Linked DNA regions of Homo sapiens. The protein of the gene in region 1 interacts with the protein of each later gene in a biochemical or structural test. Each region holds a gene or a part of one and is shown in the gene's direction. Other genes may lie near its edges.

Region 1 (4,324 bases):
GTTAATTTTCTGTTGATTGCCCTGTTTGGAATTTAAAGGAAGAGGATGCTTCTACATATTTCTGTTACTTCATAATCAGGGAATTGATCAAGTTCTAGTTTCTGCAGTTAATTGTCCAGTTGGACAAGTTGGCAAGCTCTGAACCTCAATTTCTTCAGTTCTAAAATGGGATCAGACAAAATTATGTAATAGCTCTGGATTATGTGATTATCCAAGTGACCCATGCTTGTTCTGGGACCAAAGAAAATATACTTTGTAGGTTTGATGATAGTGTAAATGAAGGAAGACTACAAAAAGAGTTAGTTTTAATGCTCTATATTTCAAACACCTGGATATACTAAACAGTGTAAAATAACTTCTTTTTATTTCTTTCAGAAGACGATATATGGTTAATTTATTAAAGTAGAATGTAAGTATAGGAGATTATATTAGATAATGTGATTAGAGCAGTTACATTTGGTACTTGATAGAGGGAGATACTAAATAGAAGGTGGAGGATGTCAGTATATCTGTTAATATTTGAAAAGGAGTACAAACTAAAAGGGATGATTGCATGTTACTTTCGTACTTTAACTTGCTACAGTCTTTTTTTTTTTTTTTTTAAGTTTTAACTAAGCACGTATTCCTACATAATTCTCACTGTATTCCTGTGAGTTAGGTACTCTATCCCTTAGTTTGAAATGAGGAAACTGAGGCTCAGAAGTCAACTTCCTTGGGGTCATTCACATAGTAAGTAGTGGAGTTGGATTTGAACTAAGGTAGTCTAGTCTCCCATAATTTTCCCTCTTAACCACTATACCAGGATTTCTCATCTCTGTCCTCCTGACATTTTGGGCTGGATAATTCTTGGTCTTGGGGGCTGCCCTGTGCGTTGTAGGACTTTTAGCAGCATCCTTGGCCTCTTCCTGCTAGATGCCAGTAGCACCCCCTTTCTCAGTTATGACCGTCTAAAATGTCCCCCTGGAAAGAGGTGGTGGCAAAATTATCCCTGGTGAGAACTATTTAGAAATAGAAAAGGATGATCTTTCCATCATTTCCTCAAAACAATAAACCAGCAGAGCACATAAAAGGTCTAAGGACCTAGTGAACCGGAATAACATTTTTACGTTAGTCAGTTGGAACAGGGGCCTTTAATAATTCAGGATAAAATAAGGCCGGGCGTGGTGGCTCATGCCTGTAATCCCACCACTTTGGGAGGCTGAGGTGGGCAGATCACTCTAGGCCGAGGTGGGTGGATCATTCGAGGTTAGGAGTTCGAGACCAGCCTGGCCAACATGGTGAAACCCCATCTCTACTAAAAATAAAAATTGGCTAGGTATGGTGGCACATGCCTATAGTCCCAGCTACTCGAGAGGCTGTGGCAGGAGAATCACTTGAACCCAGGAGGTGGAGGTTGCAGTGAGGTGAGATTGCGCCACTGCATTGCAGCCTGGGTGACAGAGCAAGACTGTGTCTCAAATAAATAAATAAATAAAATAACATAACAGGTACGGAATAAAAAACACGAGTAAATTATTCCTTCAAGAGGGATTAATTTCCATATTTCATGGGATTATTGGGCTCAAAATAATCACTAAGTTTTAAGGAATTGTATAAAATTGTACTGTAGGGAACATGAGTTGGAATATTGTAACTTCGTTTAGTCCTTTTACATAGTATGTAAGCATATGCTGATTTGTGTGGTTGCTTTCTAATCACTTTGACAACTAAAGTTATACCTGTTTAGTGGTTAAAGTTCAGCACTATAGTTACGGTGTAGTTTATTTTTGGGAAAGTAGCAGATCTTTTAAATTTTACTTGGATAGCATTATTGTAGAAACAGGAAAACTTTAAGGTCTTTATGCTAATTTACTGTAGTAAACTTTGAACTTCACACATTTTGGTTGTGTGCTTGTCCTACTTGCCATTTTGCTTTTGTAATAAATGTTCTTCAAGTATATTGGAATAGAATCTTAGCAGAAATGCAATTCAAAGTGACAAATTTTTTTTTGAGTCAGAGTCTCGCTCTGTCACCCAGGCTGGAGTGCAGTGATGTGACCTTGGCTTACTGCAGCCTCCGCCACCTGGGTTCAAGCGATTCACCTGCTTCACTCAGCCTCCCGCATAGCTGGGATTACAGGCATGACCGCTCCCAGCCCTAAAGTGGCAAATTTGACAGCTAAATCAATTGTAAAAATTCTGTAACAGGTTTATTGGGAGATTTTGAAGATCATGAAGAAATAAATAAGGTTCATAACTAGAGATTTGTGGTATTTTGGGATGCCTATATTGTCATCCTGATCCTCTGATCATTACTACTACTAAAACTTAATCTAGTACAAATAATTCTGTATTAAAGTTATGTGAATTATGCGAAGTAAACTCTGGATTTAAACTGTTACAAATGGCTAAATGCCTACTTGTTAACTAAGTAATTTGATTTAAACTCTAATCTCTGTCTCTTTTTTAATAGGTATGACGATTACTACTATTATGGTCCACCTCATATGCCCCCTCCAACAAGAGGTCGAGGGCGTGGAGGTAGAGGTGGTTATGGATATCCTCCAGATTATTATGGATATGAAGATTATTATGATTATTATGGTTATGATTACCATAACTATCGTGGTGGATATGAAGATCCATACTATGGTTATGAAGATTTTCAAGTTGGAGCTAGAGGAAGGGGTGGTAGAGGAGCAAGGGGTGCTGCTCCATCCAGAGGTCGTGGGGCTGCTCCTCCCCGCGGTAGAGCCGGTTATTCACAGAGAGGAGGTCCTGGATCAGCAAGAGGCGTTCGAGGTGCGAGAGGAGGTGCCCAACAACAAAGAGGCCGCGGGGTACGTGGTGCGAGGGGTGGCCGCGGTGGAAATGTAGGAGGAAAGCGCAAAGCTGATGGGTACAACCAGCCAGATTCCAAGCGGCGCCAGACCAATAATCAGAACTGGGGCTCCCAACCCATTGCTCAGCAACCGCTCCAAGGTGGTGATCATTCTGGTAACTATGGTTACAAATCTGAAAACCAGGAGTTTTATCAGGATACTTTTGGGCAACAGTGGAAGTAGAAACAGTAGGGCCTCTGTAAAATTGGAGACTGATAGGTTGATCAGAAACTCACCCTAAATCTGAACGGGTGCCGCTATAATTTGTGACATCTGGCAAGATTTCCCTTTATGTATATATTTTAACAATCCGCTTGGACACGAACAAAGCCACACTTCTAACTGCTTCTGGCGAACTGATTTTATTTTTAATTTTTTTCAATAAAGATATTCTTAGATACTGAAAGAAATAGTTAATGAGTTTGCATTTGTGCTTGAGAAAATTTGGCTCAAGTCCATTTGGCTGTAGTGTCAACGATGTTTCCAGTAGTGTTTAGATTTGGTGTCTTCAAAGGTAGTTGATTAAAACCAAGTGTGTCTTTAATATCTTGTATCAGAATAACTTTGTATGTTACCAACTTAAATTGCTAGAATAAGGTAAATTGATACACAACTGCTATTTTTAATTTAGAACTTTGACCTAATTTGGGTTTTCAAAACCATTTTGGCTACTTGTATTCTTTATGCTGTTGTTTATTTCAATAAAAAATTCACACCTAAATGTATACTTACTAAAATTGTGTTTACAATTCGTTTTTCACAAAATTTCCTGCAAATTTGGTTCAAATTGTATAGCATGTCAAGGCCAATTAAAGGGTTTTGTGCCTTGTTAATTCTTGTGTGGAATATGTCTGCACATTACACAACACTGATTTATTGCAGTTTTCTGCTTCTGGTTTAAAGTGCTATTTTACAACAGACTTCATGTTCCCATCAAAAATAAAAAGATAATACATGTAGTAAGTTTAAGTTGGTAAGTATTTTAGAGTTCTTAATTGTGATGAATGAACTGTATAAAAGGACAAATTCAGGTAGTCTCAAAGGGTTTGCAGGTCACACTGACAAGTCCACTTTCAGTTGCCTAAAGTTTATCCTAACTAACCTAAAACTCAGATTGAGTATATTGCCCTCTTGACTGTTTTGCACACCATGGGACTAGAAAGCAGCAAAGAAACTCTAGTGTGAAAACAATGGGAATAGGTTTGGGTAATTTGTGAGTTGCACTCTAAATAATCACTGTACTTACCTAATTAAAAATAAAACAGCTTTACAGTTAGTTTTGGGTAAGCAAATATATATCTGAAGGATAAAATTTACCTCACAGACTGGTTTGTATTAAAGATCTAATAGTTTGGATTTTTGTTTCACATTTTAGTCTTGTTTTGGCCATATGGTCTATACTTCTAACAGTAATGATGGGAAAATGTTAGAGTTTTGGGGGACAGACTCTAGGTCAACAGTGA
Region 2 (5,118 bases), on another chromosome or scaffold:
GCCTCCCCTCTGGCCTGTTAGGCCACTGGCCTGGGGCTGTGCCCTCTCCCCTCTCCCTCCCTCCTCTTTCCTCCCATGCCTGGGCACCATGACATCACCACTCCTCCAAGCACCTCTGCCCTCACCACGGAGGCCAGCTTGACGTGCTTGGCATCTTCTAGGCAAAGGGTCTGGAGTCCAGTACCATCCCTGGTGTGCTGGCAGCCCTCAACTCTTCCCTCACCCCCTCCTTGAATGGGCCTCTCTGGCTGCAGTTGGGACCTGTCTTGCCCACCCCAGTTGCAGCTGCGGGACCCACCAGTGCCTGTGGTAGGGCAGCTGTGACTGGGAAAGGGGCTGGCCTGAGGCTGACTCCTCTCCGGTGTGGGCATTGGGCTGGGTGGGGTCAGACATAGGCTGGAGAGGGCACAGTCTGCCTTTGAGCCTAGTCATCTGGGGTCCTTGAGGAGTCAAAGATCTCATTCTGGCCTCTGCCCTCTGGCATCCCTGCCCACCTTTGTAGGCTCTATAGTTCCAGGTCAGATTTCCCTTCCCCCCAGCTCCCCCAAGGCTCCCTAGACTCAGCTCCCCAAGCCAGGGCTCTGTGTCCCCCATTTCTGCCTCCCCATCTCCCCTTGGCTGGTACTGGTTGGTACTGAGATATGCAAATTGATTTATGTGTAACTCAGGCCACCCCTCCCCTCCCCTCTGGTCTCCCAGGGGCCAGTGCCTTTTATATCCTGATCCTCTCATCCCACTCTCAGGAACACCTGCGGCCCAATCCTTAAAAAAAAAAAAATCTGTCCTCTCCTGCTCCCCTTTGCCTCATGCTGGTTCCAGAAGATCCCTGTGGTACTCCCTCCCTCATCCCACTTACTATGCAGGTCCCTAAGGGCTCAGCTACTGTGAGGACCTTACCTGACAGGTGTGGTTCTCTCCCTACTTGGGCCTCAGGCCCCCAGGCCCTTGGTTCCCTGATCTATTGTGAATGAAGAAAAGGACTGTGGGAAATAATCGGAGTCCAGTGAAGAACCCAGACCAGCCCCCTCCCATGCACACCCAGGCTCCAGCTCCACACTCTGTCCAGCCTCCCTAGACCAGACCTGCAGCCTCCCTTCTGCCCCCTCCCAGACTTCACGGCCTCTTCCTGCCCTCAGCCTTCACCCTCTGGTTCATCCTGAAGTCCCTGTTTCTCTCGGACTGCTTGTCCCCAGGCCAGGCAGGCCCCAGCAGGCCTGCAGGGGTCAGCGTTGCAGTGGGCAGGCAGGACAGCGGCAGGAAAAGAGAGAGGGAGGGAGAGGTGACCTTGCAGTGAGCTGGTAAGCAAGGCCAGAGAGGGAACCACTGGGACAGAGGTTAGGTCCTGAAGGCTGCCTGCCCTGCCCCCAGCCCTCTGTGAGCTTGTCCCTGGGAGTAGTAGTGCTTGAAGCCTTCTTTTGTCCCACCTGTTAGTGGGCTCTGTTCCCTACAGACACTCCACTAGGCAGGTCGTGACTTGGGAGCATGCAGGGCAGGGGGCCTTGGCACAGCGGGCCTCTTCTCTCAAGGTGAAGGATCCACTAGATTGTCCAGGCCAACCCTCCAGTCACTGGGCACAAGTTAGGGGAAGAGGCTGATGGCGGGTGAGGGAGGTGCAGAAGTTAGGGGTGTGGCTGAAAGGGCAGATCAAGGGTATGCCCTGAGGAACACCTGGGTTAGAGGCCAGGGCTGGAGTGTGGGAAGGTCCAAGGAGGCCTGACTGTGTCCACCCATTTCACCAACAACCTCTCTCCTCCCACCTACCTCCCCAAAGCCTGCCCCATCGGCACATGCCCGGGCCTCCCTGGCCTGCATCCTGGGCTTGAGTTAGAGTCCGGACTGAAGATCGAATGATCTCCCCACAGGCCAGGACACAGTGGAGGACCTGAGGCTGGGCAAGTCTAAAACCCAGAGGGGGTGAGGATGATTTCAATGGGGCATGGGCCAGGGTAGCCAGTGCCCCCAAGCTGTTGTGTTACCATGGAGACAGGCCCCCTCCAGGGCCCTGGTTCACACTGTTCTGTGGCCTTGCAGGGAAGCTTGATCAACAAGCTGCCCGCTTGAGGGCTGGGGCATAGTGGGGAGGGAGATAGCCCCAAAGCCCCTCCTCATACTGGGGAGGGGGTTAGAGCAGGCCGGATTGAGGTGGGAACGTACAGGCCAGTAGGTGACAGGTAAGGGGACAGCTGGAAGGCAGGTCAATAGGTGGGTGCTGGGTGAGCAAAGACAGGCCCTGGGCAGCTGGGTTCTGCTCCTGGCTGACCCCAAGCTCAGGCTTAAGGGGCATTGAGGGCAACATGGAGTGCCAGTGGGGGCTGTCTCCTTGTTACACCCTCTAGCCCGGCCATTGCAGGATGTTGTGTGGAACAGGCAGAGGAGCCGTATATGGTTCCCTCCCCCTCCTGCCCCTCCTGAGTCCCCCCATCCTACTCCCCACCCACCCCCTATTCTCTCACGGACTTTGAATCCTTATTGAATCTGATGGACCGTTTTCGTTTTCAATAACTGGTTCCCCCAGGGGAGTGAGGCCAAGAACAGAAGAACAGCAGGGAGAAGAGCTGGGAGGGGTCACGTGGGGGCGGGAGGCCCAGTCCGGAGCTGATGACCCCCAGCTGGAGAATGAGTTGGCTTGATGGCTCCTCAGAGCACTGTGGCATCACAGGTGGGCATGGGCAGCCCTGTATAGAGCTGGTCCTCTGCTCCACAGACAGTGCCCGGCAGGTGGCATATGTGGCCGAGAGGTCAACTTTCTCTCGTCGGGGCAGTCACTGGTCTGGCCAGGTGCCGGCACCAGCCTGTGCCAGGCCCAGCCCGGGTGCCTGCCTGCCTTGCCAGGGAACCCCAGCTGGTGATGCCAGGTGAATTCTGCCAGTTCCGTGGGCATGGAGGTCCCTGACCTTCCAGGCAGCAGGGGCAGCCCTGCTGGGCCCTGTCCAACTAGTGTCTGCAGGGCAGGGCTTTGGTCTCACCCAGCAGAATTCCCCAAGGGCTGGAACAGAGTTGGCAGACAGCATGGGACTTGTGGAAAGGGCTGGACTGTGCCCAGAGCTTTGGCCTGGAATTCCAGGTCCAGTTGGTTGGAAGGCGGGCAGGTGCATCCGGCCTGCTCTGGGGAGTCTCTGCAGCCTCCACCTGGAAGGACCCCTTGGGATAGAATGGACCGGGAGCTGAGGTATTGTGAGCTGGAACCCCTGCAAAGCTGCATGTTTGGGGAATTGGTATCTTCATGTGATTGAGCCCACGGGTGGAAGGGGAGGGCGGAGGCAGGGGGAGAGGCACTGTCTGTATGTGTACCTAGTGTGTGTGCGGGTGGCAGCTGGATGGCCATAATATCTGTGCTTATCGAAGTGCCAGGACCGCTGTAAACAGCAGCTAATGAGTGTATTTGTAGCGAGGCGCGTTGAGGTGCGTGGGGAGCTATGACGGAAAGCTTTAGGGGAGGGCCCCTCCCCCGGCCCTGTACCTGGCCAGGCAGGGCCTGTGTGCCAGGGACCCTGCCTACCCCCTGCCACACCCTCCCACCTGCTGGCATGGCCATGAAGGCCTCGTCTGCTCGGAGCAGGGCCTTACCTGGCTGTGTGGCATACATGGGTGTGGACGGGGGTGATCATGGGAGCTTTCATGTGTAAGATACAAGCATTTCCATGACGGTGTGGGGCTGTTAGTATGTGTGTATGTGTCTGGGTCAAACTGATCTCGCCTGTGTGTTTGTGACTAGGTCTGGTCTGTGCATGTGTGTATGCACTGCTTCCCCAGGCCCTAAGAGGAGGGCTGCCTATCATCTCTGTAGTGACCCTGATAGTGACAAACCCTAATAGTGACAAAACCAAAGATGCTGGTAAAACAGGCATATGCTGCTGGCCCTGCTCCTTCGGTGTCCTTCCTGGAGTGCAGAAGGCTGGTGGCTTCCATGGCTGACTGAAGGAGAAAGGGGGGTGACTGTTCTGCCCATTGTAGGAGACGGGAGGGAGAGGTCTGAACTCTAGCCCCAGTGGGCTGCCATAGTTGCTGCTTGCATCAGAGATTGGGGAGAACCTGGGACCTAGAGAGCCCTCTGGTTCTAGAGCCCCCAGGAGCCCCAGGAATGAGAGAGGAACGGTGCCTACCTGTTAGTCCTAGCTGGTTGGTGGAGCATGCACCCTGCCACCAGCCAGGGCAGGGTGGCATGAGGGGTGGGAGGCAGAAGGGGCGCCTGCATGAGGCTCTGCACGAGGGGAGTGGAGGAGAGAGCATGCAGCTAATGTGTCCAATTAAATTACTTCAAACCCTGCCGCGGCAGCTGCTCCCGGCGGGGCCCTGGGTACAAATTGGATCCGTCTCATTACCATGGGGTGGTGTCAGCGAGGCCAGAGAGCGGCGGCCAGCATGGCTGGCACATAGCAGGCTCTCTCCCGCTCTGCCAGGCCTGGGCCCGGGAGGGCCCCCTCAAGCATTTGCTTGCTCCAGCACCCCTCAGAGGAAGTGCCCCGCGTCCAGATACTGGGACTCCCTGCACACCTCCTTACCATCCCTGACCCCCATCCAAGGATGGGGGTCAGGGATGGCAGCCAAGGGACCCTTGGAAACACTTTCTCCAGGAATGGGGGTTTTGTGCTTTGCAGAGGGACCAGCTTAAGGAATCCCGTCTCAGGTCACCAAACACATCCTGTGTCCTCCCCTGATAATAACAATAGTATGATAATAGCAAGCCTTGTGGAGCACTCAGTATGTGCTGAGCACTTTACATATGTGCCTCCAGGGACAGCTTGCTTGAGCTAGGGCTCTAGTGTCAAACAGCTATTGATTTGAATCCTGGCAGAGACACTTGCTGCTCTGTCTCTGGAGCAGGTCAGCCCACCTCTCTGGCCTTGGGTTTCCTCTTCTGTTAAATGGGTATGATGATGGTTCTTACCTCCCAGGCGGTTGGAAGATGAGGTGAGATAAGGCAGAAAAAGTATTTAGCAGAGAGCCAGCCCATAGTAAACACTCAGCCAGCGGTAGCTGTTCTCAACATTGTCCTGTACCAAGCAATTGATGTGTGGGATGAGGGTTCTGGATCCTCCAAGGAGAACATGCCTGCTACCTCCATGGTGGAGGAGTTGGGGAGGGCTTCATGGAGGCAGTGTCAGTTAGGTTACCATC
Region 3 (5,118 bases), on another chromosome or scaffold:
TTATTCTAATAAAAATTCACATTTGAACTACCATTTATTGGGAAGCGTTGAGGTGTGATAGCATCATAGTAAAGACCATGGGCTCTGAAGCCAGGCTTCCCAGACTTAAATCCTGACTCTACCACCTACCAGCTATGGACTTTGAGCAGGTAACTATGGGTATACAGACCTCAGTTTTCTTTTGTGGAAAACAGGGATAAATATGTTGCCAACCTCATGTAGTGCCTGGCAGGCTTAAATAACCTGATCTCTATAAAGTACTGAGCTATTTGGTATGTAATCACCCCTCAAGATATGTTTGTTATTATCTTCCACATGTGATTTACCTTCTGCATTCCTTCAAACTACTGTAAGAGGGAAGAACTGATTTTTCCTACTTGGAAAATGGGAAATGTAAGGTTCAGAGTGGTCAAGATATGTTCCCAAGGCCACACAGCAAGCGTGATTTAAACCCTGCCCTGCCTAACTGTGTCGTGCAGGGTCCATGCTTCCTTGACCATCTCTGAGCATTTTGGAGGACCTTGGTGCTACCTCACATGTTGTGTTCTATTATAGAGAGGCAGCAAAGTCTAGTGATTAAGAGAATAAAATCTGGAGAGAGACTGCTGGATTCAAATCTCAGAACTGTCATTTATTACTTGTAAAACCTTAAACAAATCACTGAATCTCTCTGTGTCTCAGTTTCCTCATCTTTAAAATGGTCATATAGAACTACTGGGCTGGGCACAGTGGCCACATCTGTAATCACAGCACTTTGGGAGGCCAAGGTGGGAAGATTGCTTGAGGCCAGGAGTTCGAGCCAGCCTGGGCAACATAGCAAGACCTCATCTCTACAGAAAAATTTAAAAGTTAGCCAGGTGTGATAGCACATACCTGTAGTTCCAGCTTCTTGGGAGGCTGAGGTAAGAGGATTGCTTGAGCCCAAGAGTTCGAGGGTGCAGTGAGCTGTGATTATGCCACTGCACTCCAGCCTGAGTAACAGAGATTCCATCTCTTTAAAAAAATACAATACTTAACCTTGTAGAGTTGTAGAACATAAATTAAGTAATACATGTAAAGTGCCTGGCACTTGCAATTGCATGGACAATTGCATGGCAAATATGAAGGGTTAACTCTTTGGGGACAGCAGAGGGAGGATGTACTGTGACCCCATCCTGACCCCTACCTCTGTCCTCGTTCTCTCCAGACATCTCCGTGAGCCTGCTGTCGGTCATCGTGACATTCTGTGGCATTGTCCTTCTGGGTGTCTCTCTCTTCGTGTCCTGGAAGTTGTGCTGGGTGCCCTGGCGGGACAAGGGAGGCTCGGCAGTGGGCGGTGGCCCCCTGCGCAAAGACCTAGGCCCTGGTGTCGGGCTGGCAGGCCTGGTAGGCGGAGGCGGGCACCACCTGGCGGCTGGCCTGGGTGGCCATCCTCTGCTGGGCGGCCCACACCACCATGCCCATGCCGCCCACCATCCACCCTTTGCTGAGCTGCTGGAGCCAGGCAGCCTGGGGGGTTCTGACACCCCTGAGCCCTCCTACTTGGACATGGACTCGTATCCAGAGGCTGCAGCAGCAGCAGTGGCCGCTGGGGTCAAACCGAGCCAAACATCCCCTGAGCTGCCCTCTGAGGGGGGAGCAGGCTCTGGGTTGCTCCTGCTGCCCCCCAGTGGTGGGGGCTTGCCCAGTGCCCAGTCACATCAGCAGGTCACAAGCCTGGCACCCACTACCAGGTGAGAGAGGATACTGGGTTGGGGGTCCACTCTGAACTTCTGCTCCTCCTCTGTGTCTCTTTCCTATCTATAGCTCTTATGAGTTCGGGATTTGGAGGGGAATCGGGGTATTGACTCCTGGATCTTAGGGAAAGAGGAGGCTGGGGCCCTAGACTCCTGGATCTGAGGGAGGTTGGGGCTGTGGGGTCTAGACCCCTTGGACCAGAAGAAGTAGGGGACTGGGGGCCTGAATTCCTGGGTCCAGAGGGAGGAGACTGGGGGCAGGACTTAGGACAGGAAAGTAGAGGAGAATAAGGTTGGATCCCCAAGTCCCCTGTGGCACAAGGCAGTTCACCCCCTTTCACCCTAAGCCAGGATTGGTAGTGGGACCTGGAGTTCCTTCATTCATTATTTCTCAATATACATGTAAATGTATATTGAGCACTGATATAAACTAGGCCTGAGAGGGGTGTTAGGAAAACACCAGACTCTGCCCTCCTGTCACTCACAGCGCAGGGGAGGCGACCCCCAGACTGGCTGTCCTGGTGTAGCCAGGTTGGTGAGACAGGAAAGCGACTCAGGGAACCGCAACTGGGAGAAGGCTGGGAGCTTCCTGGAGGTGGAGATGTCTCAGCTGAGACCTGCAGGCTGAGGGAGAGTTGGGAAGGCAAAGAGGCAGGGCTGTGACCTGGGCATTCCAGGTGAAAGGAGAGGCCCAGGCAAAGACAAGAGGAGAACGAGATCCTAGTGCATTGTGAGGACAGCCCACACCAAGGGGACAGCCAGGGCACCAAGCCTTAGTCACCAAGGCATGAGAATAAGTTTGAAAAACGGAAAACTTCAGGCTGGGCGCAGTGGCTCATGCCTGTAATCCCAGCACTTTGGGAGGCCGAAGTGGGCAGATCACTTGAGGTCAGGAGTTCGAGACCAGCCTGGCCAATATGGTGAAACCCCATCTCTACTAAAAATACAAAAACAAACAAACAAAAATAGCCGGGCATGGTTGTGTGTGTCTGTAATCCCAGCTACTCGGGAGGCTGAGACGGGAGAATCTCTTGAACCTGGGAGCCAAGATTGCACCACTGTACTCCAGCCTGGGCAGCAGAGTGAGACTCCATCTCAAAAAAAAAAAAAAAAAAGAAAGAAAGAAAAAAGAAAAAGAAAACTTCAGAGATGTGACTACAGACACCAGACCACATGGGGCTTTGAGTGCCCGCCTGAGGGTCTGGGACTTTGTCCTGAGGGCACTGAGGAGCCATGGGAGGGCTGTGAGCAGGGGAGGGGCAGGCTCAGCTCTGGGTGTAGAAGGAACCCTCTGGGGCCATATGGGAGTGGGCTGGAGGGAGACACTGGAGGCTGAGAGTCCAGGAGAGGACAAGGCCTGAGCTGTGACCAGGACAGTGGGGATAGAGAGGAGAGACAGCCGGGGAGATTAAGAGAAGGGCAGAAGAGCGTTCAAAGAAGGTCTGCCAGGGGTCCATGGAGAAGCATCCTGGGTCACCAGCTTGAGGTCCAAAAGAGGTTACTGGAAGCTGGTTTATGCACAGGTCTGGGCTGGAGCTAGCTTTGAAATGGGGAGAATGAGGCTGGGTGTGGTGGCTCACACCTGTAATCCCAGCACTTTGGGAGGCCGAGGCGGGCAGATCATCTGAGGTCAGGAGTTTAAGACCAGCCTGACCAACATGGTGAAACCCCATCTCTGCTAAAAATATAAAAATTAGCCGGATATGGTGGTGCATGCCTGTAATCCCAGTTACTCGGGAGGCTGAGGCAGGATAATCACTTGAACCTGGGAGGCAGAGTTTGCAGTGGGCCGAGATCGCGCCTTTGCACTCCAGCCTGGGTGACAAGAGCAAAACTTCGTCTCAAAAGAAAAGGAAAGAAGGAAGGAAGGAAAGAAGGGAGGGAGGGAGGGAGGGAGGGAGAGAAGGAATGCCCCCCAGATACCAATGGGGAATCTGAGGCTCAGAGAGCACAGTGGCTTCCTCAAGCTCACACAGTGAGCAAAGGAGGGGACTTGTGGCCACCTGGCTGGGGGATGGGGGGAAAGGCAGGGAGGAGTCTCCCAGGTCTCTGCATGCAGTCGAAGATCAGAGCCACTGACCTCACCTTGGTCTCCCCCCAACCCCCTACAGGTACCCAGCCCTGCCCCGACCCCTCACCCAGCAGACTCTGACCTCCCAGCCGGACCCCAGCAGTGAGGAGCGGCCACCTGCCCTGCCCTTACCCCTGCCTGGAGGCGAGGAAAAAGCCAAACTCATTGGGCAGATTAAGCCAGAGCTGTACCAGGGGACTGGCCCTGGTGGCCGGCGGAGCGGTGGGGGCCCAGGCTCTGGAGAGGCAGGCACAGGGGCACCCTGTGGCCGTATCAGCTTCGCCCTGCGGTACCTCTATGGCTCGGACCAGCTGGTGGTGAGGATCCTGCAGGCCCTGGACCTCCCTGCCAAGGACTCCAACGGCTTCTCAGACCCCTACGTCAAGATCTACCTGCTGCCTGACCGCAAGAAAAAGTTTCAGACCAAGGTCCGGAGCAGCGGGCTGGACACCGGGTTCCCACAGAGAGGGAGCTAGGGCTCTGGACTCCCGGGTCTGAGGGAGGAGGGGCTGGGGGCCTGGACTCCCGGGTCTGAGGGAGGAGGGGCTGGGGGCCTGGACTCCCGGGTCTGAGGGAGGAGGGGCTGGGGGCCTGGACTCCTGGGTCTGAGGGAGGAGGGGCTGGGGGCTGGACTCCTGGATCCTGTGGAGGAGGGGCTTATGGGCACGGTGTCTGTCTCCTGTCGCCCACCACCACCAGGTGCACAGGAAGACCCTGAACCCCGTCTTCAATGAGACGTTTCAATTCTCGGTGCCCCTGGCCGAGCTGGCCCAACGCAAACTGCACTTCAGCGTCTATGACTTTGACCGCTTCTCGCGGCACGACCTCATCGGCCAGGTGGTGCTGGACAACCTCCTGGAGCTGGCCGAGCAGCCCCCTGACCGCCCGCTCTGGAGGGACATCGTGGAGGGCGGCTCGGTCAGTGGCCCTCTCCCCTGACCTTCCCCTTCCCAGGGCCCTGAGACCCCCCGGGTTGCAAGCCCCCTGCCCTCAGAGTTCATAACTTCCTCACTTCTTGTCCCCACATTTTTCTGTTAAAATGTATCACACTGGGGAAGACTGCAAACTTACAGGCAAGAATAGAGAATGAGCCGGGCGCGGTAGCTCATGCCTATAATCCCAGCACTTTGGGAGGCCAGGTGGGCAGATCACTTGAGGTTGGGAGTTCGAGACCAGCCTGGCCAACATGGAGAAACCCCATCTCTACTAAAAATACAAAAATTAGCCGGGCATGGTGGCACATGCCTGTAATCCCAGCTACTTAGGAGGATGAGGCAGGAGAATCGCTTGCACCAGGAAGTGGAGGTTGTGGTGAGCAGAGATCATGCCATT
Region 4 (5,118 bases), on another chromosome or scaffold:
TTATGTAATCTTTACCTTGTTTAATAAATTTAGAGAACTGGAAGAAAACTTCTTTAGGTGTGGGTTTATCTGTAACTGTCACATAAGTATTTCTTTGGTAGAAAACACAATTTCAAAAGTTGTAGTTTTATGTCCTTAGGTTAACATCTAGTATCCAGTCATAAGCCAGAATATTATGCATAGTAAGTATTCTGCACAATGATACTAAATGCAGAGGAAAAGCAAAGAGAGTAGATTTTCTCAATTTTGAAGAGAGGTTAATTTTTAAGTGTTTTTACTTTATCAAAGTATTCCTGACTGGTGTTCAGCAATCATTGGTTCTAGTAATGTTTATTTGGCTTTTTCTTATCATTTCAGTGCCCAGTATCTTTTTTTTTTATTACAACAGACAAATCTAATTACTTCTGATTAATCTCAATAGCTGTGATTTGGATTATGAATACTTCCCTTCCAATCTAACTGAAATCATAAATGTTTCCATGTCACCTTATTTTTTATAAGCACATGGTGTAAGGCATACCAAATAAGAAAATATATTAACTTTTATCAGAGAGACAACTGTAATAGAAAACTCAATGTTTATTTTAGTATATTTATGTATATATGTTCTATTATTTTAAACAGCCTGTAAACCTAAGCCTCTCCTCTTATCTAAAAATCATCCGTCCTCCTCTCATTGCCTTTGCATTTTCACTAAACTCCCCTCTGTGTATTTATCTTGCTTTTTAGGTATTTACTTGTGTGAGTAGTTTATGTTTTTTCATATGTCCTGAGCTCTCTGCCTTACCCACCATGCCTTGACTATAAAGAAATGATAGCTAACTTTGGCCAGGTGTGGTGGTTCACGCCTGTAATCCCAGCACTTTGCAAGGCCGAGGCAGGTGGATCATAAGGTCAGGAGATCGAGACCATCCTGGCCAACATGGTGAAACCCCGTATCTACTAAAAAAAATATAAAAATTAGCTGGGCATGGTGGCGTGTGCCTGAAGTCCCAGCTACTCGGGACGCTGAGGCAGGGGAATTGCTTGAACCCAGGAGGCAGAGTTTGCAGTGAGCCGAGATCGTGCCACTACACTCCAGCCTGGCAAGAGAGCGAGACTCCATCTCAAAAAAAAAAAAAAAAGAATTGATAGCTAACATTAATTGAGCTCTTGCTATGTTCCAGATGCATTAAAAGCTTTTTAACATATTAATCCCTTTCATCTTTAAGCCAGATGAAATGGGTACCACTGTAATCTTCACTGTATAGAGGAGGAAACAGAAACTCAGAACAGTGAAGCAATCTGAGTAGAGTCACACAGCCTCTAAGTGGCCGAAGCCAAAATCTAAACCTGGGTTAAGAGCCACCGAACACATGAGCATCACCCACATCTGGAGAACTTCAGTGCATACATTTTCCCCATGCTTGATTTTCAAATCACCAAGTACTTTTAATTAACCTTCACTATTGTTATGATTTGACATTTGTTGTTCTATATATACAACTAATATCTGCCCCATACCATGCCAGAACATAAGAATACAACACCTAGTATTTTATAGATGAGTAATAGCAGCTGCCATTTATTAAGCTTTTGCCATGTGCCAGGCACTGCATCTTATTATTTAATACTCAGAAAGATCTATGGGGTACCTACCAATTTATTTCCACTTTAGAGATGAGGAAAGTGAGGCAGAGAGAGGTTAGATGACTTGCCCAAGATCACACAGCTAGTAAATGGTGAAGCCAGGATTTAAACTCAATGGCTGAACTCCAAAGCTTGGCTCTGAATGAGTGAAGAGATGTGTTCCTAGAAATCTAGCTTGGAGAGTCAAGAAAAGTAATAGGGAGGAGATGACATTTGACATATCTGGAAGGGCAAAGTGGGAAAGAAAGGAAACAATACACTCAAGGGAGACAACAACATGGATAAAGTACTGAGGAATGGTGTACCTGCAGCATAACAGGTGCTCAAAAATGCAAATGAAAAAAATGAATATCTTTATAGCCCATGAGTTAAAAGGTTTTCCACATCTAAGTGTTGTATGACTAGTGCTCTCTGTGTGTTTCTTTCAGTGCCACCGTGGGCCTTAATTGCAATAGCCATAGTCGCAGTCCTTTTAGTCCTGACCTGCTGCTTTTGTATCTGTAAGAAATGTTTGTTCAAAAAGAAAAACAAGAAGAAGGGAAAGGAAAAAGGAGGGAAGAATGCCATTAACATGAAAGATGTAAAAGACTTAGGGAAGACGATGAAAGATCAGGTAATGTATTCTTTCTACATTTCTTCTTATTTTGTTTAAAAAAGATAAACAAATGTATTATTTTATGCCATATAATTACAGAAATAAACAACTTCTGGACCCATATCGTTTTTGAGATGCTTTGCAAACCTTTCAGTCATTGTTCAAGATCCCAAAGCATAATGGAAGCATTTGGCAGGGTTTTCCAATCTCCTGAGCATATAGAACAGAAAAGGGCATCCATGATCATCAGGCCCATCTTGATGGGTTTGGCATATGAGAATGATGCCTGAATATTTTGATTACATCTGTTTAACCAGTCTTCATTGCGTTTAGAGTTAGAAAAATCAGATAAAAAGTGCCTGAGTGTTTTGCATTTGGGCAGGGGATCTTTCTAATTTCTACTGTTCATAGTCACTGTTAAATAACTGAGTTTTACGGCTGTTCATCAAACTGGATGAAAGCTGCTTTTCCTACATGTCCATCCAGCTGAAAAATTAATTCTCAAGAATAATGAGTTACATGGGAGAAGGGAGAGAAATATGAGCCAGTTCTAAAGAACACGACAGGATAGAATTTTTGCCTTATGAAAAAGTTTTCTTTCTTATTTCTTATAAGACAAAATTCTCATTTCAATTTAATAAGGACAATTACAACCATAACACTGGTTATAAAATCCATCTGGCTGGGTTATCTTTCCAAGCCCAAAAAAGCTATTTGGATGTTCTTTATGTTGCTATCTGTTTTTGGCTAAATTAATTGGACAACTTGGTTCAAGATAATGTTTACTATTATTAATGATAATTATTAAATGCCTCTTCATTTTTGAAATAATATCCATGTTGAATATCTCTAAAGAATATTTAATTCATATTTTAAAATTAAAATGTAAATGTACAGATTTTTTATAGAATTAACATTTTCAATTATCAATGTTTTCATCAAATACAAAAGTTTTATTTATTCCCAAATAGCAAAATATATAAGCAGTTTTATAAATTCCTCTTATACTATTAATTACTATTAATCAAACTCTTAAACCTGAATCTCCTTAAGAACAATTTAATCAGGTGTTACAACAGGCATTTTAAGTACATTTGCGTTGTTTCCTAGTTCATTACACATTCAGGGACATTAACTCCCCTTCCCAGCTTCAGTTTTAAACTCTTTTTCCTCAAAGACACTATAGTATCTATTGATAATAATTTCACAAAGGCTCATGTTTTACTCCCTGCATTTTTGTTCTGTTTTGGAGCTATGGAATGGATGAAATGCCTGTACTCATACTCAGAGAGTTTTGGCCTGAGCTCGGAGTAGCAAGGGTTTGATTTTTCTGGCAATTTCTAATCACAGTCACAAAAGCCAATGCATAAACGTTCAACTACAGGTGTCTAATAAAGATTTTTCTCTTCAGTTAATTTAAGTAGAAACTAAAATTTCCAGGCATGTCTTACTTTATTTCCACACTTTTCATAGCAAGCAGGACTTGATAAAGATTTCTTTAAACAACTTATTGGGAGATTAAGTGTGGAAATAACCTCCTAGATGGACATGGACTGAATAATATGTATGTTAATTTTATCAATATTGTGAAAACAATAATTTGACAATAGATCACTATCTTTTTCATAATTATCATAAAATTTGAATGTGGTTTCCCTGTGTTCTAGAACTAATTAAAATTACTGAATAATGTTAAGTGATAACGATAGCATTTCTTCCTAGGACAATAAATCTATAATATTTGTGGGATTTGTTCTGTATGATGTAAAATTATAATTTACAGCATAGTGGTGGTGTTTATTACCCCTGTTATGACCTGGATAAATGACCAAGATCTCAAATATAGAGAATTAATGGGGGTTAATTTTTCATTGATGATCTATTTTTTGGATGGGGAGAGACAGAGAAAATGATTCAAACAAAGAAATATTAAGAAGTCAGTGATAGTTTATACTAATCTGTTATTGCAAATTATTTAGAATTTCAACCACTCAAAAAGATGTTTTCAGTTATTTTAGGTAGAGCACTTTGTCTACATAGGACATTAGCTAGGTCTCAATTTTTGTAAGTTATGAACAATTAAATTCACAGAATAAGGTACAATTTGGACAGATGAATATACACTCCAGGGATAAACGTTTATATAACCATAGCTTATGCTACTTTTTGAAGCAGACAAAAGTAGCTAATCATGGGTTCCATCATTTTATGAAGAGGAAGGCTAAAAAAGCAAAATAGAATGTGCAGATTTTAAGAGGATGTTTCATCACATGATGATCGCCAGATCACCCAAAATTCAAAACAGCATGAATACAAATTAAAATTATTATTAAATAATTATATTTTCAAAATATCTTCAGCAGAATGTTGAAGTGAACATGGGGAAGAAAATAAAGATGGCTTATGCCCTTCTCGTTTAAAAACAAGACAGATGTGAGAGGCATTTTAGATATAATTTCTTAATCTTAAGAAATATCTATATATAGGCTCTATATACAAGATATAAAGGCTCTAGGACAATCAATACATTTTTACCATTTTAATTCATATCAAATTCACAGAAATTCCAATTTCAATATTCATGGCTACATGTCTCTATAGTAAGGTTTTGCAACCAAGGAAGATTTTTTTAAATATTCTGCAATGACTACAAAAAGTATAGACATTTATGTTGCATAAGATATATATTTATGTGTTCTTTTGTATGTGTTAAAATTGGAGAACACTAACCAGACAGAGGGAAAATATTCACATGTAAAGTCATAGGTCTGGAAAGGTCATTTCTCCACGGTTTTCACTAATGTGTGTGGATATTTTAATTTTTATTTCTTCCTTCTATGTCCTTATCTGTGTTGTGTCTCATGACTGTTCTGGACTGTCCCTTGCGGTAGGTT
Region 5 (5,118 bases), on another chromosome or scaffold:
TGTAATTTCCAAGCCGCGGCGGGCAGAGTTGGAGCGGGATATGTCTATTGAGAACATTTAAACTCCACTTTCTCGGGCTTTAAAACTTGCTCTCTGCTTAGTCTTAAATCGCTTCCTTCATGGCAAACACGCCGATTAGAAAATAATCCTAGAGTCCCAAAGTTGTCCGAGAGCAAGGTGGGGAAACTGAACAATGTTTGCTTGCCAGTGCATTTTAGAAAAATTGAGAGTTGTACCTTTTTGAAATCATCAAAGGAAACAAGCCGATCTAGAGGCCCCTGAGTTTTCCCGCTCTGCCCAAGCGACACTTTACACCGCATTTGAATCCTGTTTTACACCTCCCAGGAAGTCTCTGCCCTCCCCCACTTGTTTCCCACCCGCCACCCAGTTCTAACTCACTAATTGCCCCCCCTCCAAAAAAAAAAAAAAAATCCAAAAGAAATTACAATGGGGTCTGGAGGTGATTGGATACTTTACCTTTGAGTTAAGGCAGAGTTCACAAAGAAAGAAAAATTTGTCTCCGATGTGTTTGCTCTCGATGTGCCCACTGGTGCTAGTGGTCCCACAGAAGCTTGCAGGGAACCTTCCCGAATTCTCTAAATGGGATGCGAATTTTCATTGAGGACGTTCATGGGTTTTAAGTTAATTAGTCTCACTTAATCACCGAATCTGAATGAAATGTGAATAGATGATTCACTGGATAAATATTTGGGATCTGGAATATTAATCATCGCATTCTCTTAACCACTTGAGTATTTACTACTTGGCATAGGAGCCATTTAAAGTTTTGCTAAACCAAGTGATTGCTTCCATTTCTCATTCCCAGACACTCCATTCCTCCTCGCTTTTACCTCCTTTTAGTTTTCTCCACTCCACCCCCATAAGAGTTTTCTCAAAAGAAAGTTTTGAAGAAAATATGTTTATTTTTATCAAAAGATATTTAAATTTAGACTGGAGGCCATGCCTGCATCTCCAAAAGGAAGTGGAGAATTGAAGCAATTAACTAGATGATTCAAGCAAAACCTCCCACCATAGATTTACTATAATTATTTGGAAATTTTAGGGGGAATGGAGTTATTTTGAACTGAAGAACTTGAATAATTGCTCCAGTATTTCACTCAAAATGTGTCAGTTGAATCATAATCCACCTAGAAGGCAGGTATACAAAGATGATTAAAGGCCACCTTTTCAATATGGAAGATTGTTGAAATATCTGTGATGGTAGCTTCGTATTTCTGTTGTTTGAAATGCTAGTATAATGCAGAGTGGTGTTCGTTTAAAATGCCTATTATTCCTATGAGTTGCCAAATGCATAGCCCTGTAAACTTTACACCTTAAAAGTATATGACTTTCTTTCTAGAACATGCCTCTTCAGTCTTTGTTACCATTTTAGGTTTGAAGTAGAATCTAGTTTTCATATACAAAATAGAGTTTCCTCTTTGAACCCTTGCATTAAAAGTATAGTTATTTCCCCTTTCTGTAAACTCTGTACCATCATCATCCATTTATGCTTGAACTGAACGTGTTCCAACAGCTCTTTTGAGCAGCACATGCAGAAAATATAGCTAAAGAGTCAGGGTCAATTTCTTTCAGACATTCTTGCCACAACAGCATTTTTTTTTCCCTCACAATTAGGAACCAACCGGTGAGCCCTCTCCTAAGAGACCCAGGGGAAGACCCAAAGGCAGCAAAAACAAGAGTCCCTCTAAAGCAGCTCAAAAGGTGAGATTTCTCAAGTCAAGCTCTCCTAACTTCATCAATGACTGACTACAGGAGCCTGCCTGTAACTTTCCCATTCTAACTCCGCAGCCAGGAATTTGTCCCAACTGGGTAACACAAGACTCATTTCTTACATTTAACATTAGTTAGATGCGAGTTAACCTTTTTTGTAAGCAGATGCTCAGCATAAAAAGTTTATGAAGATACTTAACAGTGTTGTTTTTAAACAAACAGCCACCAAATAATTTGAACCTTAAAACGGGTAGAAGTGAGGAAGGAAGGGGTTGCGGGGGGGGCGGGATGAAAATGACACAATTAATATTTGCACCAGTTGTAAATAGTTAAAAACAAATCAAAACTATAGATTTTGCCTGGTGGTAAAGTTTTTGCAATTTCCTCTGAAAAATGATAAAGATTGATTTACTTTGTGCTTATTACATGGCTACTGCAAACCAAATCCCCCTATTAAAGTACTTTGCCAAATAGACGATAATTAGAAGTAAATCTAGTTGTGGGATAGTGGAAAAATTCCATGAATTTTGCAGCTTTAATTGTGATAATAAAGTATACTGTTTGTTTTACAATAAACCTGCAGTATAGTATATCATAATCTCAAAATGCCTTTTCATCAAGTGACATAGAAATGTCTGAATTGGACAATGAGACTTTTTAAAACAAGTATTTGGCTCATTTAATATCTCTTTTTGGGCAGAATGGAACCCAGTTAAGTGTAATATTCAGTGTTTATCTTAATAAGTTTAAACTTGCAGTTTAAGATAACTTCAGGTTGGCTGTGTTTAAGCTAGCAAAGAGGAACTATGTCAGGGTTAATGCATGTATAGAGAAGTACCAGTCACTTTTTTGACTTTATAAATAAATTGGAAAAAAAAGTTTCTGCGTTGTATTTGTAGGTTTGTGTAGTAATTGAGAACAAAGTTTCAAAAATCAGAACTAAATTTGGATATACCTTTTCACCGGTTTTGGGTACTCCATGTACAGTATTTGTTAGAAAGGACTATATGCTCATCGTTTGGGGATTAATGTTTTGTGTGATTTTCTTTGTGACTGTGGGTACTAACTGTAATGTATGTAAACTGCCATAGCAACTAATGGTACATATAAAGTTATTTAGGAAGTTACTCTGAGTTCTTGTCTGTTTTAACAGTTTTGAACAGAGTTGAGGAGCATATTTTTAATATATTTAAATTTAATTGCTTCTTAGAGTTTAGATTTAATTGTTTCTTATTTAATCAATAAACTTTAAAATAGCTCTAAGTAACCTTGTTATTTAAAAATGGCAATATATAATCTGGTATTTTTAATATGAATACTTTACATTTGTTTCATTTTATCTCATTTATAAATTAACTAAAATGGACTGATTTTACCAAGGAGTTTTTCTATGTTGTGTAAGTGTGGAGTTTACCTAATTTACTTTTATTCTAAGGAGATGCACAAATGAATATCTTGTTAGATAGCTGACACGCATTTAAGCTGTGGTATAATTCCTCTGAAAAACACATCATGATAATATCTCCTAGGAAGAAATCTTTAAATTTCACCATAAATAAGTAATTTGAAATTTAATACTAAAAAGGAAAATGAATTGTCTCCCATATTTTACTATATTTCATGTTTTTTGGATGAATAGATAGAAACGCTCCCATCGCCTCCGCTTCATTTTAAAAAGCTTACCACTGACTAACAAAATTTGTATTGAGAAAAGGGAAGCTGAAGCTAGTGCCTAGTTTACCACCTAAAGCAAAATTTTTAAAGTTGATCTATTCCTAAGTAAGGGTTGATTTATTTTTAGTGACTCTAGTGACAGGCATTTGTAAATGACCCCCCTACGCCGCTCATCTTTCTGAAAATTCTTCATGTGTATGCATACATTATTCCAATTTCCAAAACAGAAGTAGGCTTTCTTTTTTCTAAAGATTCCTTCTCCAGAATCTTTCATTCTTTCAGACACAATTATTTCCTACAATGGTGTTATAAAAATCCCTCTTGTAATAAAAATGAATAAATACATTTGCCCATAACATGACTTATTTTTCTTCAGTTTTATAAATTACGCTTCATCTGGAGAAGAGAATACCTTGCAAAATAATGAATGACATTGATGAATCGTTCATGGCATGTGTAAACTTAAGGTATTTTCACTTTCAAATCAGAATTTGTTGAGTATGTTACTATTCTATATAAATATGATTTTCAAACATTTGTTTATTAAGCATATATTGTGTTCTAACAAAACATATATGTTCGTCAGGATTTTGCAATGCAAATCTTTTTAGAAAAAGTTATATTGTTCATAACATGTAAGATAAACATACCCTGTGAGACTGACCAGAATAGATATGAGAAGTCTTCTATGAGTAACAAAGTGAGTGTTTTCCTGTAAACTGAGACCCATCACAATGCAAAATACATTGCAAAGACTGGTAAGTATATGAGAAGAAAGAAGCCTAAAATTAGAGGAGCTGCAATGCACACTGAAATCCTGATGGTTATATACTTAAAATTTCTTGCTGCTTGGAGTTTCTTGACTTACAAAGTTTATATTTGGATTCAGTAATTGGCCTTGGGACATTTGAAAACAAAGCTGTTGATTTGAAAATTAACAGTGTGAAACTGGACAATGCATGCAGAATGTTGCAAGACCAAGTGAATGACTACTAAATTAGCCATCACTTCAATTTCAAACCATATTCAGTAGAAAATTGATTTATATAATATGTAAAACAAAGACATTTATAAGAACACAATTTCCTATGCTTGGAACTTTTGGAAGAGAAGATAATTATTCTTCAATCTACTTAATATTCCATTAAAACTAATTACTATGCATGACCATTGTGTAATGATTCTAGTCATTCCTCAGAACTCCAATCTGAGTGCTCAAAATTTGTCCCTGAATCAGTTTCATATAGTTACCTGAATAAAAGAAATCAGAAGTTAAAGTTTTCCTGAATAATTCATTTGTCCATGTGTGTATACGTCTGTGTGAGCATATCTTTACCCTTTTATTTATTTTTTAGTCTGAGGTACACCTATGACCAGTTATGTCTTAACTTCCTTTTTTGTTTTGTTTTGCTTTGCTTTGCTTTCCTGGTTGTGGTGGATGGAAATCTTTGCATTTTTACAGTTCCCAGATGGTTAGAGAGAAAGAAGTTATAATCTCCTTTAGTTTAGGGTTTTGTTGTACTTTTTTAATCATGACAGAATACTGGAGGGGTTGTCACTAATTCTTCAGTGTTGAAGGTCTCAGGTCAAATTCACCTTTAAGTTTTAAGCCAATTCTCATTCACATATTTTAGGAAGTTTTTTTCTGAGGTTGAATTAAATTTTATTGGAAGGAAAATGAAAATAAAAAAAAAAGATCTCAGGTGTGAGATA
Region 6 (5,118 bases), on another chromosome or scaffold:
TTTATTTATTTATTTTTTTGAGACGTAGTCTCGCTCTGTCGCCCAGGCTGGAGTGCAGTGGCTTGATCTCGGCTCACTGCAAGCTCTGCCTTCCAGGTTCACGCCATTCTCCTGCCTCAGCCTCCCGAGTAGCTGGGACTACAGGCGCCCGCCACCACGCCTGGCCAGTTTTTTGTATTTTTAGTAGAGTTGGGTTTTCACCGTGTTAGCCAGGATGGTCTCGATCTCCTGACCTCATGATCCGCCCACCTCGGCCTCCCAAAGTGCTGGGATTACAGGCATGAGCCGCTGTGCCTGGCCAGTAGTTGCATTTTTAGTTTTTCTTTTTTAAAATAAATTTGCAAACTGTTTTCCAGTATGGCTGTACCAGTTTACATTCCCACCAGCAAAGTATGACAGATTCAGTTTCTCTGCATCCTTACCAGCATTTGGTGTTTTGCATGCGTGTCTGTGCACGCACACCTATACACACACATATAGCCATTCTGATAGGTGTGTAGGAATATCTCATTGTGGTTTTAATTTGTATCTCCCTGGTGCAAATTAAATGGTGAGTTGGTCACAAGTACTCCAGGTTGCCGGTAGTTCCTTTTGTGTGTGTGTGTGTGTGTGTGATTTTTAAATTTCAAATATAAACATATATATATATATATATATATATATATTTTTTTTTTTTTTTTTTTTTTTTTTTTTGAGAGGGAGTTTCACTCTTGTTGCCCAGGCTGGAGTGCAATGGCGCGATCTCGGCTCACTACAACCTCCACCTCCTGGGTTCAAGCAATTCTCCTGCCTCAGCTTCCTGAGTAGCTGGGATTACAGGCATGCGCCACCACACCCAGCTAATTTTGTATTTTTAGTAGAGACAGGGTTTCTCCATGTTGGTCAGGCTGGTCTCGAACACCTGACCTCAGGTGATCTGCCTGCCTCAGCCTCCCAAAGTGCTGGGATTACAGGCATGAGCCACCGCGCCCGGCCTATAAATATATTTTTAAATTTTCTTTTTTTGGTGGAAGTGCTTTTTTTTTTTTTCTTTTGACATGGAGTTTTGCTCTCGTTGCCCAGGCTGGAGTGCAACGGCATGATCTGGGCTCACCGCAACCTCTGCCTCACAGATTCAAGTGATTCTTGTGCCTCGGCCTCCCAAGTAGCTGGGATTACAGGCATGTGCCACCACACCCGGCTAATTTTTGTATTTTTAGTAGAGACGGGGTTTCGCCATGTTGGTCAGGCTGGTCTCAAACTCCTGACCTAAGGTGATCCACCTGCCTCAGCCTCCCAAAGTCAGCCACCGCGCCTGGCCTAAATTTTCAATCAATATGTGCCAAGTGATTATTATTTAAAAATATTAGCTTGAGAAGAGTTCTCAGACTCAATTTTATTGTCATGAGCCTCTTACAGTGAGGTCTCACAGACTTCCTTTTTCCTTCATGCCACTGACTCTGAGACCATCTGGCACTGTGACACCTCTGTTGGGTAATCAAGCCATAAATCAAAATCTTTAGTCTCCAATTCCTGTATCGCCTTTCTCAAAACGCAGCCTGAGTCTGAAAAATAATGTACCTGTAACCAAGGACTCCAACACCTATTTAATCATCTATCAAACCTGAAATAAAAACCCAATTTTGGCCGGGCACGGTGGCTCACGCCTGTAATCCCAGCACTTTGAGATGCTGAGAGGGGCAGATCACATGAGGCCAGGAGTTTGAGACCAGCCTGGCCAAGATGGTGAAACCCCGTCTCTACTAAAAATACAAAAGTTAGCCGGGTGTGGTGACACATGCCTGTAATCCCAGCTACTTGGGAGGCTCAGGCACGAGAATCACTTGAACCCTGGAGGCAAAGTTTACAGTGAGCCAAGATTGCACCACTGGACTCCAGCCTGGGTGGTGGAGTGAGGTTCTGTCTCAAAACAAAACAAAACAAAACAAAACAAAACAAAACAGAACAAATCAATTTCCAGGTGATTCTATTTCGGAAATTGGAAGAAATTAGGGACTTTTGATCAGTCCATGCATTTTTGTCATAGACTTCAATTCTTTTCCAGGAAATAGTTTTGGGTATTTTTTTTGTTATTTATTTATAATTTTAGTTTAATTATTATTATCTTTTTTTGAGACAGGGTCTGTCTCTCTTGCCCCTGCTGGAGTGCAGTGGCATGCTCATGGCTCACTGCAGCCTCAACCTCCTGGGCTCAAGTGATTATCCCACCTCAGCTTTCCTAGTAGCTGGGACTACAGGCATGCACCACTACAGCTGGTTAAACTTCTGTATCTTTTTGTAGAGACGGAAATTTCCCCATTTTACCCAGGCTGGCCTTGATATCTTAGGCTTAAGCGACCATCTTGCCTTGGCCTCCCAAAGTGCTGGGATTACAGGTGTGAGTCACTGCCTACAGCCTGGTTTGTTTTTTAATTTTGTTTTGTTGTTATTGATTGTTTTTATTTTAAGGAATTTAGTAGCTCTAGATGCAGGCTTATCTTCAGTTTTCCACAGCCCTTGCTCACTTTCTTTTCATGGGAATGGCCTGGGCCTACCGTAGAAAGCATACTTCACAGTATATGGCTAGCCCTCTATATGAAAAATAAAACGTCAGAAAGTGTGCAATCCACCTCTCTCCAGCCTTAAAGGTGCAAAAAGCCTCAGAGTCACTTCAAAAGTGTTCTGACTTTGGAGACATATTCCAAGGACTGGCTCAACTTAGGTTCTATGTTATGCAACTAGACATTCAGCTAACAATTTGGCAGTCATGGCGAGGAAACATACACATGAGGCTCAATTCAAGGGTAGTAACTTAGTACGAAATGCAGTTGGTTCAAATGATTCTGGCTGGGATGCCAAATATGTAATTGAGATGTTTATGTTACCAGTATTATTAGTTCCCTTTTTCCTCTGTTAAATAGCTATTTACACACACACACACACACACACACACACACACACACACGTATATACAACACACTAGGACACCAAGTGGGTATTTTTGCAACCCAAACTAAAAATCCATAAGCATATGCATGGCAAACCGAATAGTAGAGATAAGAAAGAGAAGTATTCTTACACAGGAGGCTCTCACCTCCTCAAAATTCCCAAGTTGACATTTAATGTCAATGATGTTCATGCCATTGAAATAAACATAAAACAGGCATCTTTCTAACCCTCTGAAAGGCTGCCGTAATAACAGTGCTTAACGTTTATGAAGCATCTGCTGCGTCAGGCACCTTGCAAATGTTTTCCATTCATTGTGTTACGTGAGTCTTCCGACAACCTTGTGGAATAGGCAATCTTAGGGTCTACATTTGACAAATGGGGAAACTGAGGTCTAGAGAGGTTAGGAAACTTGCCAAATGTGTTAGAGCAAGTAATTGGCTAAACTGGGATTATAACCCATTTTTCTCTGACCCTAGAGCCTTGGCTCTTGATTGCAACACTGTGTTGCTTCTTTAGACTAGACTGAGATTCATGGACCATTTTAAGTTTGTAACCACCTTTGAGAGTCTGAATGGAGGACGTGGTTTTGCCTGGTTTTACTTCCTCCTCTAGAGTGCGGGGTCCATATTCCTCTGATGATAAGGGCCAGGAGAGCCATCTAAACAAAGTACTGCTTAGATCACTCCAAAGCCGGGGCCACTCACACTGCACCCCAGGAAACTGAACCTCTGTCCTTTCCAGCCCAGACTTTCTTCCACGGAGTGACACTGATTAGTTTGTAGGCCAGGTGAGGCATGATTTCATAACCATGGAGTAATCTGACCAGGGTCATGCAGGGGAGCAGCAGGCCTGCGGTATATAAATTCTCAAATACACATCTTCCATTTATTTCCTTATTTCTTTCTTTAAAAAAAAAAAATTTGGCCTAGGCATGGTGAATCATGCCTGTAATCCCAGCACTTTGGGAGGCTGAAGCAGGAGGATCTCTTGAGCTCAGGAGTTTGAGACCAACCTGGGCAACACAGAGAGAACACGCCTCCACAAAAAAAATAACAAATGAAATAAAATTTTAATTTTTTAAGAGACAGGGTCTCACTGTATCACCCAGGCTATGTACAGTGACATAATCATAGCTCACAGTAACCTGGAACTCCTGGGCTCTAGTGATCCTCCCTCCTCAGCCACTCAAGTAGCCACAGGTGTGTGCTAACACACCCTGCTAATTTTACATTTTGTAGGAATGGGGTCTCACTGTGTTGCCCAGGCTGGTCTCAAATTTCTGGCTTCAAGAGATCCTTCTGCCTTGGCATCTCAAAAAGCTGGGATTATAGGTATAAGCCACTGCACTCTCTCTCTATATATATAAAATCAAAGCCCCACCAATGCCACCTCCTTTTCTATTTTCCAAACTACTCCACCACCATGGTCTGCACCACTCCCTGTGAGGCCCCTCAAAGCTGTCCATGCCCATGTCTACATTAGGCTTCTCTACCCATCGTGTCATAACATTTCCTGTATTTCCATTTCTTTCTTTCTTTTTTTTTTTTTAAGGAGTCTTGCTCTGTCACTCAGGCTAGAGTGCAGTGGCGTGATCTCGGCTCACTGCAACCTCCACCTCCTGGGTTCAAGCAATTCTCCTGCCTCAGCCTCCCAAGTAGCTGGGATTACAGGCATGCGCCACCACGCCCAGCCAATTTTTTTTTGTATTTTTAGTAGAGATGCGGTTTCTCCATGTTGGTCAGGCTAGTCTGGAACTCCCGACCTCAGATGATCTGCCCGCCTCAGCCTCCCAAAGTGCTGGGATTACAGGCGTGAGCCACCACACCGGGCCTATTTTTAATTTTTATTTTTGAGACAGAGTTTTGCTCTTTTGCCCAGGCTGGAGTGCAATGGTGCGATCTTGGCTCACTGCAACCTCCTCTCCCCAGGTTCAAGTGATTCTCCTGCCTCAGCCACCCGAGTAGCTGGGATTATAGGTGCCCGCAATCACACCTGGCTAATTTTTGTATTTTTGGTAGAGACAGGGTTTCACCATGTTGGCCAGGCTGGTCTCAAACTCCTGACCTCAGGTGAACCACCTGCCTCGGTCTCCCAAAGTGCTAGAATTACAGGCGTGAGCCACCGCACCCGGCCTCTAAGAGGCTTTAAGAAGTGACTTTCCCATTGTGCTTAATCATTTTTGTTGAAGCC

Evidence for each region.
Region 2: the proteins of SYNCRIP (region 1) and SYT7 form a complex in vitro, tested with the Homo sapiens proteins (one study listed by BioGRID).
Region 3: the proteins of SYNCRIP (region 1) and SYT3 form a complex in vitro, tested with the Homo sapiens proteins (one study listed by BioGRID).
Region 4: the proteins of SYNCRIP (region 1) and SYT1 form a complex in vitro, tested with the Homo sapiens proteins (one study listed by BioGRID).
Region 5: the proteins of SYNCRIP (region 1) and HMGA2 form a complex in vitro, tested with the Homo sapiens proteins (one study listed by BioGRID).
Region 6: the proteins of SYNCRIP (region 1) and APOBEC1 form a complex in vitro, tested with the Homo sapiens proteins (one study listed by BioGRID).

Annotation. Positions count from the first base shown.
Region 1 is NC_000006.12:85,613,476-85,617,799, reverse strand, and holds the end of SYNCRIP (heterogeneous nuclear ribonucleoprotein Q), read left to right. Parts: intron 1-2,452; coding exon 2,453-3,044; 3' UTR 3,045-3,824; downstream 3,825-4,324. UniProt on the Homo sapiens protein: Heterogenous nuclear ribonucleoprotein (hnRNP) implicated in mRNA processing mechanisms. Component of the CRD-mediated complex that promotes MYC mRNA stability.
Region 2 is NC_000011.10:61,574,027-61,579,144, reverse strand, and holds part of SYT7 (synaptotagmin-7), read left to right. Parts: intron 1-5,118. UniProt on the Homo sapiens protein: Ca(2+) sensor involved in Ca(2+)-dependent exocytosis of secretory and synaptic vesicles through Ca(2+) and phospholipid binding to the C2 domain.
Region 3 is NC_000019.10:50,628,880-50,633,997, reverse strand, and holds part of SYT3 (synaptotagmin-3), read left to right. Parts: intron 1-1,186; coding exon 1,187-1,712; intron 1,713-3,826; coding exon 3,827-4,214; intron 4,215-4,485; coding exon 4,486-4,704; intron 4,705-5,118. UniProt on the Homo sapiens protein: Ca(2+) sensor involved in Ca(2+)-dependent exocytosis of secretory vesicles through Ca(2+) and phospholipid binding to the C2 domain.
Region 4 is NC_000012.12:79,283,730-79,288,847, forward strand, and holds part of SYT1 (synaptotagmin-1), read left to right. Parts: intron 1-2,057; coding exon 2,058-2,242; intron 2,243-5,118. UniProt on the Homo sapiens protein: Calcium sensor that participates in triggering neurotransmitter release at the synapse. May have a regulatory role in the membrane interactions during trafficking of synaptic vesicles at the active zone of the synapse.
Region 5 is NC_000012.12:65,826,366-65,831,483, forward strand, and holds part of HMGA2 (high mobility group protein HMGI-C), read left to right. Parts: intron 1-477; exon of another isoform or gene 478-609; intron 610-1,635; coding exon 1,636-1,722; intron 1,723-5,118.
Region 6 is NC_000012.12:7,654,870-7,659,987, reverse strand, and holds part of APOBEC1 (C->U-editing enzyme APOBEC-1), read left to right. Parts: intron 1-5,118. UniProt on the Homo sapiens protein: Cytidine deaminase catalyzing the cytidine to uridine postranscriptional editing of a variety of mRNAs. Form complexes with cofactors that confer differential editing activity and selectivity.